Linked DNA regions of Homo sapiens. The protein of the gene in region 3 purifies or fractionates together with the protein of the main gene of each other region. This does not show direct contact. Each region holds a gene or a part of one and is shown on either strand. Other genes may lie near its edges.

Region 1 (4,592 bases), on a different chromosome or scaffold from region 3:
TCATCCACCCGGGTTTTCCAAGTCCCTGTTACGTGCTGGGCACCGCGTGCAGAGCCATCGCCATCCTGGCTGAGCTCGCAGCCCAGGGTGAGGGTCACCATTCAGGGTGGTCAGTTTAGGAGAGCGGCTGTTATCAGGGAAGACATTGAGTTAAGCCCAGAAGACACAAGGAGACGTTCACTAGGGAAGGAAGGGAACAGCATTCTCAGCAGAGGGAATGGCCTATGCAAGGGCCAGGAGCCCAGAGGAAGTACAGTGCTTTGAGGGGGCAGCAGGCGGTTTGATGTGGTTTTAGTGAAGGGTGGTTATAGGAGCTGTGGCAGGAGATGGGGTCAGAAAGGTGGGCAGGGACCTGGTATTCCGTGCCAAGAAACAGGGACAGGGAGACATGGCCCAAGCCTCGGGAGTGAGGGTATAGAATGTGGGTTGCTTTGAGTGTTAGGGTACCAGCAGCCCAAGGCAGAGGGGCAGCAGGGACCAAGGGAAAGGTGACTCCAAACTGTGCCAAGAGTGGTGTGCCAACGGAAGCTGGTGTCTCATTTCCTGGCCTTCCAGTCTCAGGAGCTCCTCTTGCCCGTTCAGCTTGCAGAATCTCCACGCTTTGGGCAGGATCCCTCCTCCCAAGGCGCTGCCTGCAGGCGGATGGGCTTGATGATTCCTTCGGTGTTGGGGCTGGGGGCCTAGGTGGCCAGGCTGTGGTCCTGATGGCTGTGCCTCTGCCCGTGCACAGGGGCGCTCGGTGCTGGATGCCACCGGACAGCGGTGCCGGGTGGTCAAGCGCAGCTTTGCCTTCCCGAGCTTCCTGGAGGAGGATGTGGTCGATGGGGCAGACACGTTTGACTCCTCCTTTTTTAGTAAGGCAAGCATGGGGTGTGGGACAGCAGGAGTTGGGTGGGGTGGCCTGGGAGCTGGGTGAGGTGACCTTGGCATTGATCATATTCAGGAACCCCTGAGGGACCCAGAGGCCCACTGCTGGGATGTGGCATGGTCCTATGTGGAGCTGCTGGGCCCCCATCTTTCTGTTGGGTAGGGTGAAGACCTGCGGTGGGGCACAGTGCCACCCGGGAAAGTCACCATTGGGGCTGACGGGCATGTGGCTTCCCAATTCATTGTGAAGAGCCCGTCTGTTCAGCTGTGTCCTGCCCTTGAATTGAGGTTCCGGGGGGCAGTGTTTGGGACAGACTCCTTACACTGTATTTTCTTGTCCCCCACCCCAGGAAGAAATGAGCTCCATGCCTGATGATGTCTTTGAGTCCCCCCCACTCTCTGCCAGCTACTTCCGAGGGATCCCACACTCAGCCTCCCCTGTCTCCCCCGATGGGGTGCAAATCCCTCTGTGAGTGCTGGGGCAGAGTCCCTCCTCCAGGCCAGCCACCAGCCTGGGGGCATCCCCAGACCTCACCCTGGCCCCCAAGCCCCTTCTGAGCACCCTGGTGGGGTCTGGGAGTATTTTGGTGGGGGATTCAGGCTGAAAGCCACCATCCCCACCAGGAAGGAGTATGGCCGAGCCCCAGTCCCCGGGCCCCGGCGCGGCAAGCGCATCGCCTCCAAGGTGAAGCACTTTGCCTTTGATCGGAAGAAGCGGCACTACGGCCTCGGCGTGGTGGGCAACTGGCTGAACCGCAGCTACCGCCGCAGCATCAGCAGCACTGTGCAGCGGCAGCTGGAGAGCTTCGACAGCCACCGGTGAGGTGTCGCCCTGGAGCCCCCAGGAGAGCCTGGAAGGTTCCAAATTCCTCTGGGCCCTCCTGAAGCGCCCCCTTACTCATTCAGCAAGTGTTTCATGAGCATCTTCTGCGGATCAGGAGTGTAGTGACAAGCTCGAAGGCGCACCCTGTCCCAAGGGTTGTGCACATGACCTGGGAAGGGCCAGGGGTGCTTGCTGCCTCTCTTCCACCCCATGCTTTCTGAGCCTGGTCCCCAGCCTTGCTCCCAGACAGCAGTCAGTCAACAAATGTTCATTGAGTGTCACTGCCTGCAGGCCCTAAAATGGAACCCCCAGAGGGTGGAGCAGGGAGGGCAGGGTCGGTCAGAGGACAGTTAGAAGCTGGGGCCAGGGCTGGGCGCCGTGGCTCACACTTGTAATTATAGCACTTTGGGAGGCTGAGTCAGAAGGATTGCTTGAGCCTAGGAGTTTGAGACCAGCCTGGGCAACATAGTGAGACCCTACCTCTACTTTAAAAGAAGAAGCTGGGGCTGGGAGGGAGGGGACTCTGGGAGAGGCTATGCAGAGCCCTTGGGGAAGAACAGGGCATCTGATTTGCAGCAGCCCAATAAACACTGGGCCCAAATTAGAAAATAACAAGCAGGCAGGGCGCGGTGGCTCACGCCTGTAATTCCAGCACTTTCTGAGGCCGAGGCAGGCGGATCACCTGAGGTCAGGAGTTCAAGACCAGCCTGGCCAACATGGTGAAACCCCATCTCTACTAAAAATACAAAAAATTAGCCGGGCGTGGTGGTGCATGCCTGTAATCCCAGCTACTCGGGAGGCTTGAGGCAGGAGAATCACTTGAACCTGGGAGGCAGAGGTTGCAGTGAGCCAGGATCGCACCATTGTACTCCAGCCTGGGCAACAAGAGCGAAATTCCATCTCAAAAAAAAAAGAAAGAAAAGAAAAAGAAAATAACAAGCAATGGCCAGGCCCGGTGGCTCACACCTGTAATCCCAGCACTTCGGGAGGCCTAGGTGGGCAGATCACCTGAGGTCAGGAGTTCGAGACCAGCCTGGCCAACACAGTGAAAACTGGTCTCTACTAAAAAGACAAACAAAATTAGGCAGGTATGGTGGGTGCTTGTAATCCCAGCTACGAGGGAGGCTGAGGCAGGAGAATCGCTTGAACCTGGGGGCGAAGGTTGCAGTGAGCTGAGATCGCACAACTGCATTCCAGCCTAGGTGACAGAGCGAGACTCTGTCTCAAAAAAAAAAAAAGAAAAGAAAAGAACAAGCAATGATAGGTGTGGTGGGTGTCCCGGAGGAGGATAGAGAGGGAGAGTGAACAGCTGGTGGGGAGGGGTGCAGTCAGGACAAACTGTGATGTCATGTGCAAAGGCCCTGGGGCTGGAAGGGCAAAGTACATCCCAGGAAATGCAGGCAAAGAGGCCAGAGAGGTGGTCGGTCAGGCAAAGCTTTGCAGCCAGCAAGAGGGGGTGATTCTGGAATTTGTCCCAAGGCCAGTGGAAAGCTATCAAAAGGTTTTAAGCTAGGAGAGAGATGCTTGGAGGCTCGTCTTAAAAGTTCCTCTGGTTTGAGATGAGTTGACGGGGCAGAACAGGGAGCCCAGGCGAGCCATGTGACCAGGCCAGGGTGGCCCTGTGGCCGGGACTGGGGGTTGGGATAGGAGCTCGGCTCAGCTGACCCGAGGTGTCTCTGCACAGGCCCTACTTCACCTACTGGCTGACCTTCGTCCATGTCATCATCACGCTGCTGGTGATTTGCACGTATGGCATCGCACCCGTGGGCTTTGCCCAGCACGTCACCACCCAGCTGGTGAGTCGGGTCAGGCTCCATGCTGGGGGTCCCAGCCTCTCCTAGGAGGCCTCAGTGTCGTGGGTACCTAATCCCTCCCACCGCAACAATCTGGCCCCAGCAGGGTGGTGCTCACCATAGCCTGGCCCCTTCCTGGAGGCTCTATCCTGGGGACAGCTGCCCCAGCTCCCCATGCCCAGGGCCCACACTGTTCTGACGCCCTCCTCTGTGCTACCTCCACGATAGGTGCTGCGGAACAAAGGTGTGTACGAGAGCGTGAAGTACATCCAGCAGGAGAACTTCTGGGTTGGCCCCAGCTCGGTGAGGGCCCAGGCTGGGGGACATCATCTGAGCCAGGAGTCCCTGTGCCCTGTCACTCCCAGCTGGGCAGGTGGGCTCCTCACCCACCCGCAGGCCCCTCATCAGGGGAGACTCTGCGGGGCAGAGGTGGAGTGATGGACCCCTCCCAGGTCTGGGGCTCAAACTCACTCTCTCCCCTCCCTTTCCCTTCCCCAGATTGACCTGATCCACCTGGGGGCCAAGTTCTCACCCTGCATCCGGAAGGACGGGCAGATCGAGCAGCTGGTGCTGCGCGAGCGAGACCTGGAGCGGGACTCAGGCTGCTGTGTCCAGAATGACCACTCCGGATGCATCCAGACCCAGCGGAAGGACTGCTCGGTGGGGGCAGGCCCTCCCTCCTACCCCTGCCAGACCCTGGTCCCGGACTAGCTCCACTTGCCCTGTCCTTCAAGGGCAGTGACCACGTTCCCTCCTCCCCGCCCCACCTTTCCCAGACCCCCATAGATGAGACTGAGCCCTGGGGAGATGGGAAAAGCCTCTGTCCTTGCCCACTCCAGTGGGGGTGACCTGGCCCCGACATGACCCACCAGCCTTCTTCTGCCCTCCAGGAGACTTTGGCCACTTTTGTCAAGTGGCAGGATGACACTGGGCCCCCCATGGACAAGTCTGATCTGGGCCAGAAGCGGACTTCGGGGGCTGTCTGCCACCAGGACCCCAGGTAGGGCCTGGAGCCTCTGCTGGGCCTCAGGGTCAGGCATAGCCATGCCATCTGAGCCACCCACAGGGACGTGGGTAGGTGGACGTGGCACGCTGGGTGTGCCACAGCC
Region 2 (4,592 bases), on a different chromosome or scaffold from region 3:
CTCTGAAGTTGTTATCATGGAAGGTTCAAAATTACAAGTGTATGGTGCACACAGAGATATGAAGAGACACACACACACACAGAGAGAGAGAGAGAGAGAGAGAGAGAGAGAGACAGAGACACAGAGAGAGAGAGATCAGCCAGTGATTCTGAATAGAAAATGAAGTTAGGTAATGAGGAGGGATTAAAGAGTAAAGTCTCTGAGGAGGAACAAGGGCATGGTTCCTGGAATAAATGAATGTATCAGTATTAGTTAAAAATGACACATTTTCCTTGTGACAGATACTAAATGTTTGTAGGTTTGTAGATGGTTTGGAGGCCAAACCGTAAAGAAATTCTTATTTGCATGGAGGTATTTTTTCTTTTACCTTTCTTCTTCTGTGTCATAGAAGCCAAGTTCAGTGGTGAGAGTGAGGTAAGAGATGGAAAGAGAATTTTGAGAAAATGAAGAATATTTGAAATAGCCTCTCTTGATGATAATTACAAAGAGAACTTACAAAAGAAATATAAAAGTGTGTGGTGCTTTATATATAATGAGAAATATAAAATGATTGTTGATTGTGTTTTTGTAATATCTTAGATTGAGGTTTTTTTGGACACAGAGTCTTTTTCTGTTGCCCAGGCTGTTCTCAAACTCCTGGCTCAAGCAATTCTTCCACCTCAGCCTCTGGAATAGGTAGTATTATAGACATATGCCACCACAGTAGGCTAATATCTTACTTTTTAAAAAATTCACAACTTAGAACTGTTGTCCTGTATACCTAGTCATACCTAGTTTGTAAAATGCAGCATGTTTGAAATTTTCTTTAAACTTTTAATAAAAATTTAAATGCATTGGTATTTATCATTATTTTTTATTTTAGAAATAAATTAATGATATTTCAAATTTGTTTATACTTACCCATGCTGGCAATTATGCTATGTACAGGTAATCTGGAAGGTCCATGATAAAACGACCTGGACACATTGCTTTTTCTCTGCTGGTCTTGGTTTTTAAATGCTGAATTCTCTTCTTTGGTAATATTAATATAAAAGCATATGTCTGTAGAATTCATAATGTATCGAGGACCTGGATTCAGCAAAATGTTTTTATTATCCTCCCTCCTAACACCAATCAAGCAGACGCCAAACCTTAATTTAAAAAAAAAGAGAGTTTGTAAGAAAATTAGTAAATTATTGTAAGGCTGAGGAAAATAAAAGCTTTAAATAATAGCATTTTAAAGCTTGAAATGATCCTAGAAGTTCAAGATCCTCATTTTTACAGGAAAATAAACTATGTGCTTAGTGTGTTGTAAAACCAATTTAGCTGATTATGACCACTATAAATTTACATTTTAATGAAAATGAATGGAAGAACATAAGAAACATGAGTGCATGTATACACTAAGGGTAACATTATTTTGCGAATTTTTACAACAATTTTACTTTGGTCAAAAAACATAAACAGCATATCTTACTTTGGTTAAAAAAAATAAATAAAAAGCTTAAAACTATTGGCCAAAGGAAAGAAACTTACCCATGGTCACCTGAAAGAGAACCAGGGTCCCTGAATTTATCACAGTTGGTTTACTTTAAATTTTAGAAAAAATATATATATTTAAATAGTCTTAAATAGGTATGTACTTAGTCAGAAAAAAAAAGTAAAGTAGAATACAGAAGCTCCTTGACTTATAATAGAGTTATGTCCTGATAAACCCAGCATAAGTTGAAAATATTGTTAAATAAAAAATGCTTTTAATACAGCTAGCCTAACAAATATCATAGTTTTAACCTAGCCAACCTTAAACATACTCATAACACTTACATTGCCTACAGTTGGGCAAAATCATCTAATACCAAGCCTGTTTTATAATAAAGTGTTAAATATCTTATGTAATTTATTGAATATTCTACTGAAAGTGAAAAATAAAATGATTGTATGGATACTGGAAGTATGGTTTCTACTGAATGGCTATTGTTTTGTACCATCATGGTAAAAAAATAGTAAGTCAAAGCATCATAAGTTGGGGGTTCCTGTACATTACATAATAGATTAGTTAGTAGACTATATACGTATATTGTAAATCCTCCAAAATGTGTCACATTAAAACATTTAATACAGATAATATGTTATTTTCATTATATACATACATTTTTACTTCTTAAGTAAATCCTTTTTTTTTCCAAAAAGGAAAAGAAAAAAAAAGTTCTATGTTTGAATTGGAAGGTAGTTTTATTTATTTTTTAACTTATTTCTCAGGCCAAAACAAGGGCCACCATCAGAGATTTTTTTTTCAAATGTACAGTTTTTAGAAATATTAGTGTTACTTTGTTTTAGTTCCTAATCAACATCTTAAAATTCAGATCTGTGAAGAAGATTTTCATATGTATGTAAATTCTTAATGGATTAAAATATTTTAAAAAGACTTTAAAAGTGGCTAAATGAAATATTCCTACTAAATTATAATTTACTCCTGACTGTCTTATAGAGACCATACAGACACCAGGGTTCAAATGTTTCAACATTGGGGAATATTGTGACAAAAATTCCGGAATGCCTAAACACATGAACACAATATGCATTCTATTTTTGAAAACTATTTTCACATGATATGCTTGACTGATTGATATTTTAATTTTTCTCTGAGGCAGAAACATACTTTTTGTGTGCATGGAAAGAGGCATATGTAAAACTCTTTCCTTCATATTCAGCAAAAAATGTACTTTCTTCCAAAACAATGTGGTAGACTTCATTCCCGGAGCATCTACCGTACATCTTCTGCCATTGTTCTGGCGATTGCTGGCCTTCTCTGCAACACAGGCACACACACATACACACACACAAAAAGAAAACACAGTGAATGTGGTTAAAAAACAGTTGTTATAGAACTGTTTCTCAACTGTGTAAGAACTGGCAAGCACAATCCAAAGGAGCATCTGAGTAATGCTTTGAAGTCTGAAGATGACATTATATGCAAGAGTTTCTAAAAAATTTTGAATACTATATATATATATATATATATATATATGTATATATATATATATGCTTGAGAAATGACAGTTTTGTAGAAAGTGGGAGTTTTCCAAGATCCAGCTAATGAAAAGCTTTACTCTCACAATGAATCAATGAGATACAGGATTTTAGTCTCTCTTTATATACATATCCTATCATGTATATCTTCTAAAATTTGTTGTACAGTCTCCATAATATGGCCAACGTTATCTTACCTATGATACCTGCGTGGCTGCTGTAGGTATTTTATTTTGCTTTATACTTAAAATTACAAATTTATCTCAATTTATCTTTGATTTTATAGAAAATATACCTTTAGTTTTTGTTCATATCGTAGCAATAACTTTCTTCCAATTGTATAGCAGTCACGAAAAGACACTTTTCTTATTTTAAATGTAAGGATCTCTCCAACTAACTGAATATTCTTGTAACCACAAAATTCATGTTGGAATCCTAATCCCATTATGATGGTATTTGGGAGTGTGGCCTTTGAGAGGCAATTAGGTTATGAGAGTGGAGCCCTCAGGAATGGAATTAGTGCCTTTTAAAAAGATGCTAAAGAGCTATCTTCCCGCCATGTGAAAATACAAGTCAGCAGTTTAAAACTCAGAAGGGGGCCCTCACCAGCACTGGATCATGTTGGCACCTAGATCTTGGATTTCCAGCCTTCAGAACTGTAAGAAATGAATTTCTGTTGTTTATAAAATGCCCAAGCTGTGGTAATTTGTAATAACAGCCTGAACTGACTAAATCTCCAAAAGACATCCCACAAAAGTATTTTTATAAAGAAGATAATTTTACCACAAAAAGTACAATGTCTTTTGTTCTGGAACGTTCTGCGCTGCCCGCCTAACTCAGTGGCTTTAGAAATATATTAAAAATTCAATTTATGAGAAATTCATAATGGATATATAAATAGGTTATTTCTCATTTTATATAATAAATTCATTTACCTTTGCTGAATAACACTTATGAACTCTACAAAAAAGCACATTTTAGAAGCAATATGATAAATATATAAAAATCAAAATAATTTATCATAATCTCTAATCAATTCTTAATGGATCAAAACAGATCACAAGACATTACAACCATGTTTAGGACTTTAAAGGCCATTTTAAACTGAGTATTGTCTAAAGGGTTATTAGGAAGGTAACATTTGTCAATATTTTCAAATTGTCAATAAGCTTTAAAAAATATCTATATTTTCTAAGTATGCCTCATTGCTGCCTCATTCCTTCTTAAGTATGCTTAAAGAGTTAAGAGCCTGGGCCCTGGAGTTTGATTGTCTAATCTGAGTCCCAACTCTATAATCGTGTTTTGTTTTGTTTTGTTTTGTTTTTATTTTTATTTATTTGTGTGTTTTTAGAAGGAGTCTTGCTTTGTCGCCCAGGCTGGACAGCAATGGCACGATCTCAGCTCACTGCAACCTCTGCCTCCTGGGTTCAAGCGATTCTCCTGTCTAACCTTCCCGAGTAGCTGGGATTACAGGCACCTGCCACCATGCCCAGCTAATTTTTGTATTTTTAGTAGAGATGGGGTTTCACCATGCTGGACAGACTGGTCTTGAACTCCCAACCTCAGGCGATCCGCCCGCCTTG
Region 3 (5,686 bases):
CTAATTAATCCTGTACTTCTTAGCGATCTAGTTACTTTATTTTCTCCCCCTTGCATCTTGCCTGGGAAACAGTGCATCACTGGTTACTAAGACTGAAATTCATAATTCAAGGAAAAAAAAGTAAACCGTAAGTCACATTTTAAGTCTCAATTGTATCCTGGTTTGGACTAGAGATGGTGGGATATAAGATTTATCAACATCACAGTGCATCAAACCCGTTAATAAATTACTTTCTGTGTAACAAGTAAAAGAAATCATTTCTAAAATGGAAGCACGAAAGGCATGGCATAGCTGGAGTTTAAGGTTCAAGCTTTGTATCCTCTATATATAATGTATTATGTTTTTCAAAAACTTTTTATTAGGAAAGCTATACCAGAGGCATAATCACTATACAATGATTAAACATTACCTTTACAATTTATAATCACTGAAATTACAGAATAAATATATGCACATTTCTTTTGAATCTTTGTGTGTGAGAGAGAAAACATTAAAAGTGCTTCCTACAAAGCTGTTAGTGATATATACCCAGTTGCTTTTTTTAATATTATATATATATATAAGAAAGTGCAGATGTTCTCCAAAAAATCTTGGCATCAGGATGAAGTGTCACAAAGAGGGTGCTCATCCCTAGGCGTGTGTCTTCGGCTGTTAAACCACCAGGCCTCTACTTCAGTAGAATCCAGCCTAGAATGTGACTTTTCCCAGGGTGGTAGGAGAGATGCTGTGAGCTGTACACTAGCAGTGAAGGGTGGTAGAACTATGGAGAGGAGAAAAATGGATCAAACCCGAACTAAGCAGATTGAGTTGAATGGAAATGGTATGGAGTGTGTGTGTGTGTGTGTGTGTGTGTGTGTGTGTGTGTGTGTACCTGCACCAGCAGGAAGAAACTGCAGGTTTAGGGACCATGGTCTGCAGATGGATATGTGTATGAGAGACAAGATAGTGAGTGAGAACATTCGAGCAAGACCCGCCCCCTCCCTCCCCATCTTGCAGTTTCCAGGCATGCAGCAAACTGCATTGTTAATACATGTACAGAATCTGTGCCATGATGATAAGAAAGAAAGCCACAAATGACAAATGTCAACTTGTTTCCCCCCCTTTAAATCAAAACTACAACTATAAAAAAAATAGTTACTGAAAATAAAAAGACACATTGAATTTTACTTAATTAGGATCCATACAATGATCCCCAGTATATCTTATACATGGCACAGTCAAAGTCTCAAGTTTCAGTATAAAAAAATAATGATAACATTTGCTGGCAAAAGTCTGCGAAGGCACTTTCATTGATTAATGATCTGAGTATGGCCCTTCCTCCAAATCGCATCTGAGAGGGGAGAGCATACATCTGTATTCTCTAGTTATCATGCGGTTTTAGTTTTGTTCAGGGTAGGAAAGATCGTGAGGATGGAGTTACTGGGACAAGTGTAAAGGGAGCAAGGGATATATTTCTTTTATTTTCCTTTTCTTTTGAAAAAAAAAAAGCACTAATATATTTTCTTCTCTCTGTTAGAACCTGTATGTTGTCTTCTCCAGGACTTCGAGGTAATCCGGCTTGGTTTGAAGTTTGGCCCTTAACTCGAGGTAATCACTTTTTTGGGTTTGGTGGTCTGTGAAGCCCTTTCCAGCCGAGAAGAGAAGGGTTTCTTTGAGCCTGGCATCCTGCTGTAAGTCTGGGTATTGCATGCCAGGAGGGTGCACGTGCAGTTCCTTTAATTTGGGCACTGTTCCATAGAGACAGTCCACAAATCCCACTGTGCAGGGGGCAGGCTGTGGCCTCTCTCGATCTAGTAGCATACTGCCACTACCACAGCCTCCCCCAGGAGGAAACAGCACCACCCCACCATTTTTCTCATGGTGGCGGAACCCTGCCAAGTCTCCCCCAGTTCCCCCAACTACTCCTGAAACCCCACCAACTGCTGGGTGGTGAGGGTGATGGTGATTCACCGTCACTATGGTGTTAAGCTGGGAGCTGGACACTGCTAGGGCCCACTCCTTCTCTTTTTCCAGCAAGGTCCGGTAGTTACTATGGTTCTCCTTGGGTGTCTCAGCAAACTGCTCACTTCCTAGGAGAGCCTCACCCATTCCCGGTGGTTGTGTCCCTGGACCCCCACGTTCTGCACTCCCTGCTTCTTGGGCTGATGAAACAGCCACCTCCTCCTCCTCACGAGGCTTGTAGATGGGGTTGTTGCACATTTGGGTAACCGGGTGGGGGATGTACTCATACACATGACCCACGGGAGGGGCCTTCTCTGGAGAGGAAAGAGTTGGTCGACCACCACCCCCACTTCCGCCACCACCACCTCCACCATCCTCAAACAGCCTGTGGCATTGCATTTGGATGCCAGTAAGGTCCACACCTTCCTGCCGCTTGCTTCTGAAGGGCAGCTTCTTTCGACGCCTTCGGAGCACGTAGGCAAAGAGGCCTGCAGCAACAAAGACTGCTGAGAAAAACAGAACCAGCAGGCTGAGAATTAACACAGAAAGTGGCACAGGGCCCCCAGGAGGAGAAAACTCATAAGGTGATGCACTGGTTGGTGCCCCAATAAGGTGAGAATCTCCAGGCTGGGCTGGGGATTCTCCAGCTGGTGCAACGTGCAGCATCTCTGGGCAAAGAACTTCCAGCTCAATAGTGCGCACATCACGGTGCGTGAGGTTCTCAGGGCTCCTGCAAAGCACATCACCAACCACACTGACTGAGCTGATGGTTTCGATCCACTGTTTAAAGGGGACCAGGTCACAGGTGCAGTCCCAAGGATTCTCATTGAGGTCTATCTGGACAATGGCATTCAAGTGTTCCAGGACACCAGCCACGGGAAGATAGAGGAAGTAGTTCTTCCTCAGGTTGAGCCGGGCCAGGGATGTGCCAGCAAAGGCGTCTGTTGGCAGAGTCCTCAGTAAGTTATTATTGAGGAATAGCAGCTTCAAGTTGGGCATGAGGCTGAAGGCTGCAGGCTGGATTTCCCGGATGACATTGAACTCAAAGTACAAGTAGTGCAAACTCTGTAGGCCTCGGAACATGCCTGGTGTCAGCTTCTCTATATCGTTGCCATTAAGGAAGAGGCTCTTTAAGTTGGGCAAGTTGATAAAGGCCCCATCTTGGACATAGGAAATACGATTGTTCCCCAGATGCAAGAGATCCAAGGAAGAAAAATTCCAAAAATCAGAACGGTATATTTTCTGAATCAGATTGCTACTCAGATACAGTTTCTTGGCATTCAAGGGCCTTGGAAGAAGTTCAGAAATGTTATTAAATCCTCGCTCTTTGCAGTTGACAGTCAAGCCAAGGTCATTGATGTGCAAATTACAGGTACACCCAGTGGGGCATATAATGGGGATTGGTGGTCTGGTCTGATAAGGAGCAATGGGAGGCTGGTTTGGACCAGGATATAAAGCTTGGGAGGTGGAGGGTGGCCTTGGTGTTCGAGGCTGTTTGGTGGGCTTAGGCTGTTTATTTGAGGACTTGTATTCGACAGAAGAAGCAGTAAAATGAACAGAGGATAGCATTGAGGAAGGCTTAGTTGGCCATGCATTCTCCTTACTTGATGACGAATGTGGAATTCCCAAACTAGCCTCTACCTCAGAGTCAGACAACAAGGGACAGAGTTCTGTCTTCCTGATTTCTCGTAGGTCCTTTCCATGGAAGTGGAAAGGGGTCTCACAGGTAATGTCTCCCACCAGGGCAGTATAAGGAATGCGTTCCAGCCAACTCTTCAGTTGTACAATTTCACATGTACAGTTCCAAGGGTTTTCTTCCAGCTGGAGCTCCATCAGGCTTCTGCCAATGTGATCTAGCATTCCTCGGTAAAAAAGAACCTTTAACCTATTTCCACGTAGGTCCAAATGGGTTAAAGAGACAGCCTTAAATAAATTGGTTGGAAGCATGGGGATGAGATTATCATTTAAAATCAGAACCCTCAATTTACTTAGGTTCCGAAATGCCCCACTCTCAATACGTTTAATGACATTGTAATCTGCCTGCAGATATTCTAGACTTTCCAAGCCAAGGAAGGTGTCATTTCTGAAGACATCTAGTTTGTTTTCATGTAGATATAGTCTCTTTAAAATCTTAAGACCATTGAAAGCTCCAGTCTGAATGTCCTGCAATGCATTGTTCCCAAGATTAATAGACACAGCATTATTCAAATGAAGAAAACTGTTGGTATATAATTTCCTCATAGAATTCCTCTGCAGATACAGTTTAAAAGGTCTTGACCAGAACTCGGTAATCTGACTAATATTTGTAAATCCTTTACTGTCACAATGTATATGAAAGAGGCTTTCTTTAACTTCACAGTAGCATGGATCAAAACAGGGCTCATCTATTTCCTCTGAGTCCTCTATTAGGGGAATCGGGGTAGTCCATCCTAGAGCAATTGTGCTTAGAAGAATTATCCACAACATCCTTCCTCTGTGAAGCATCTCAGCTATGGAAGGTTTCATCGTTCGTGGTTGATTACAAAACTGCAACAGAAATAAAAATGCAGATTTTTAGCTTTTAGTCATATGTACTATTTTAATTGACTCCTACATGTGGGGCATTTTAAGAGCTATATAAAAACTTCAGCAATTGTTGAAGTGACACTCAAGATGAGCTAGCAACATACTTAATGTTTAGAGTGTGTCCTATATTTTAAACTTAGGAGACTCTGAAATATTGAACCATGCAGTGACATTTTCCTGAACCAAGCCATACTTGGTAAACGGCATATTGCATGAACAAAAGCAGCCTGCATTGCCTCTGTATAACAAACAACAGAACTGGTATATCGTACTTCCTTTTAGGCATAGGCAGATTCAGTAATAATGGCAATAATGTGGCCATCACACCTGTTTGCCTGTTAAAACTCATGTTGACATCAAAGATACTCATAATAAATCTGATTGGAACTCTGATGGGAAAAATATGTTCTTTGAGTTATAGGTTTTGATGATTAAAAAGACATGATATACTCCAAAATTATTATATTGATTAGTGTGATAAAGTATGAGCCTATTGCTCAATATCAGATGTTGAGATGTGTAAAATGATCAGCATCTCAGGAAAACTTAAGATTTATTTTTATGAAATGATCATAACATGCTTTATTACAGTGTATAGTCAGTATGTACACTATATGTCCACATCTTCTTGCCCAATAATACATTATTGTCATCTTCTTTAATTTAATAAATAATTTGTATATATTTGTATCATTTGACTATTTAAAACATGTAGGAGTGATTAGCCCTTCTAAAAAACATGCCCGTGCAATTGTCAGAGCTAAAGATAGGGACAGCTAGAGGATGCTGAGTCTGAAAGTGTCTGAATTAAAACATTTGCAAAACTTAGTTTGGAATGTGTATCTGCGCCTTCAAGATCAACTGAGGAACCCTGTAAAAAGCTGGAAGAGCAGGTGGCTGGTTAGAGGGGAGGTGGGTAGTTAAAGTCAAGAGAGAGTGGAAACCTCTATTCTTACCTGCTGATAAATGATCTATCACACGAAATAAATTTCAAAAAAGATATCATTCTTTTCCAATCAGAAGAAACAAATGCAGTGCACTATTCTGATAACAGTCTTTCTCTATGCATCGTTTTCCTTGCCTAATAACATCAGTATATGAAAATGTTTACATAAATGATAATAATGCAGTTTTATTACACTGTCCTTCCTGAGTCACTAAAATATCAATCAAAATTTAA

The links. The genes of interacting proteins can lie anywhere in the genome.
Region 1: the proteins of SLITRK3 (region 3) and RHBDF2 purify together in Homo sapiens (affinity purification with mass spectrometry; one large-scale study listed by BioGRID and IntAct). This does not show direct contact.
Region 2: the proteins of SLITRK3 (region 3) and KCNT2 purify together in Homo sapiens (affinity purification with mass spectrometry; one large-scale study listed by BioGRID and IntAct). This does not show direct contact.

The regions. Positions count from the first base shown.
Region 1 is NC_000017.11:76,473,924-76,478,515, reverse strand, and holds part of RHBDF2 (inactive rhomboid protein 2), read left to right. Parts: intron 1-730; coding exon 731-859; intron 860-1,217; coding exon 1,218-1,336; intron 1,337-1,491; coding exon 1,492-1,686; intron 1,687-3,374; coding exon 3,375-3,486; intron 3,487-3,711; coding exon 3,712-3,786; coding exon of another isoform or gene 3,787-3,856; intron 3,857-3,981; coding exon 3,982-4,143; intron 4,144-4,373; coding exon 4,374-4,483; intron 4,484-4,592. UniProt on the Homo sapiens protein: Regulates ADAM17 protease, a sheddase of the epidermal growth factor (EGF) receptor ligands and TNF, thereby plays a role in sleep, cell survival, proliferation, migration and inflammation. Does not exhibit any protease activity on its own.
Region 2 is NC_000001.11:196,339,441-196,344,032, forward strand, and holds part of KCNT2 (potassium channel subfamily T member 2), read right to left. Parts: intron 3,666-4,592; exon of another isoform or gene 3,616-3,665; intron 2,789-3,615; coding exon 2,639-2,788; intron 1,131-2,638; coding exon 901-1,130; intron 1-900. UniProt on the Homo sapiens protein: Sodium-activated and chloride-activated potassium channel. Produces rapidly activating outward rectifier K(+) currents. Contributes to regulate neuronal excitability.
Region 3 is NC_000003.12:165,186,385-165,192,070, forward strand, and holds the end of SLITRK3 (SLIT and NTRK-like protein 3 precursor), read right to left. Parts: intron 4,468-5,686; 5' UTR 4,447-4,467; coding exon 1,513-4,446; 3' UTR 336-1,512; downstream 1-335. UniProt on the Homo sapiens protein: Suppresses neurite outgrowth.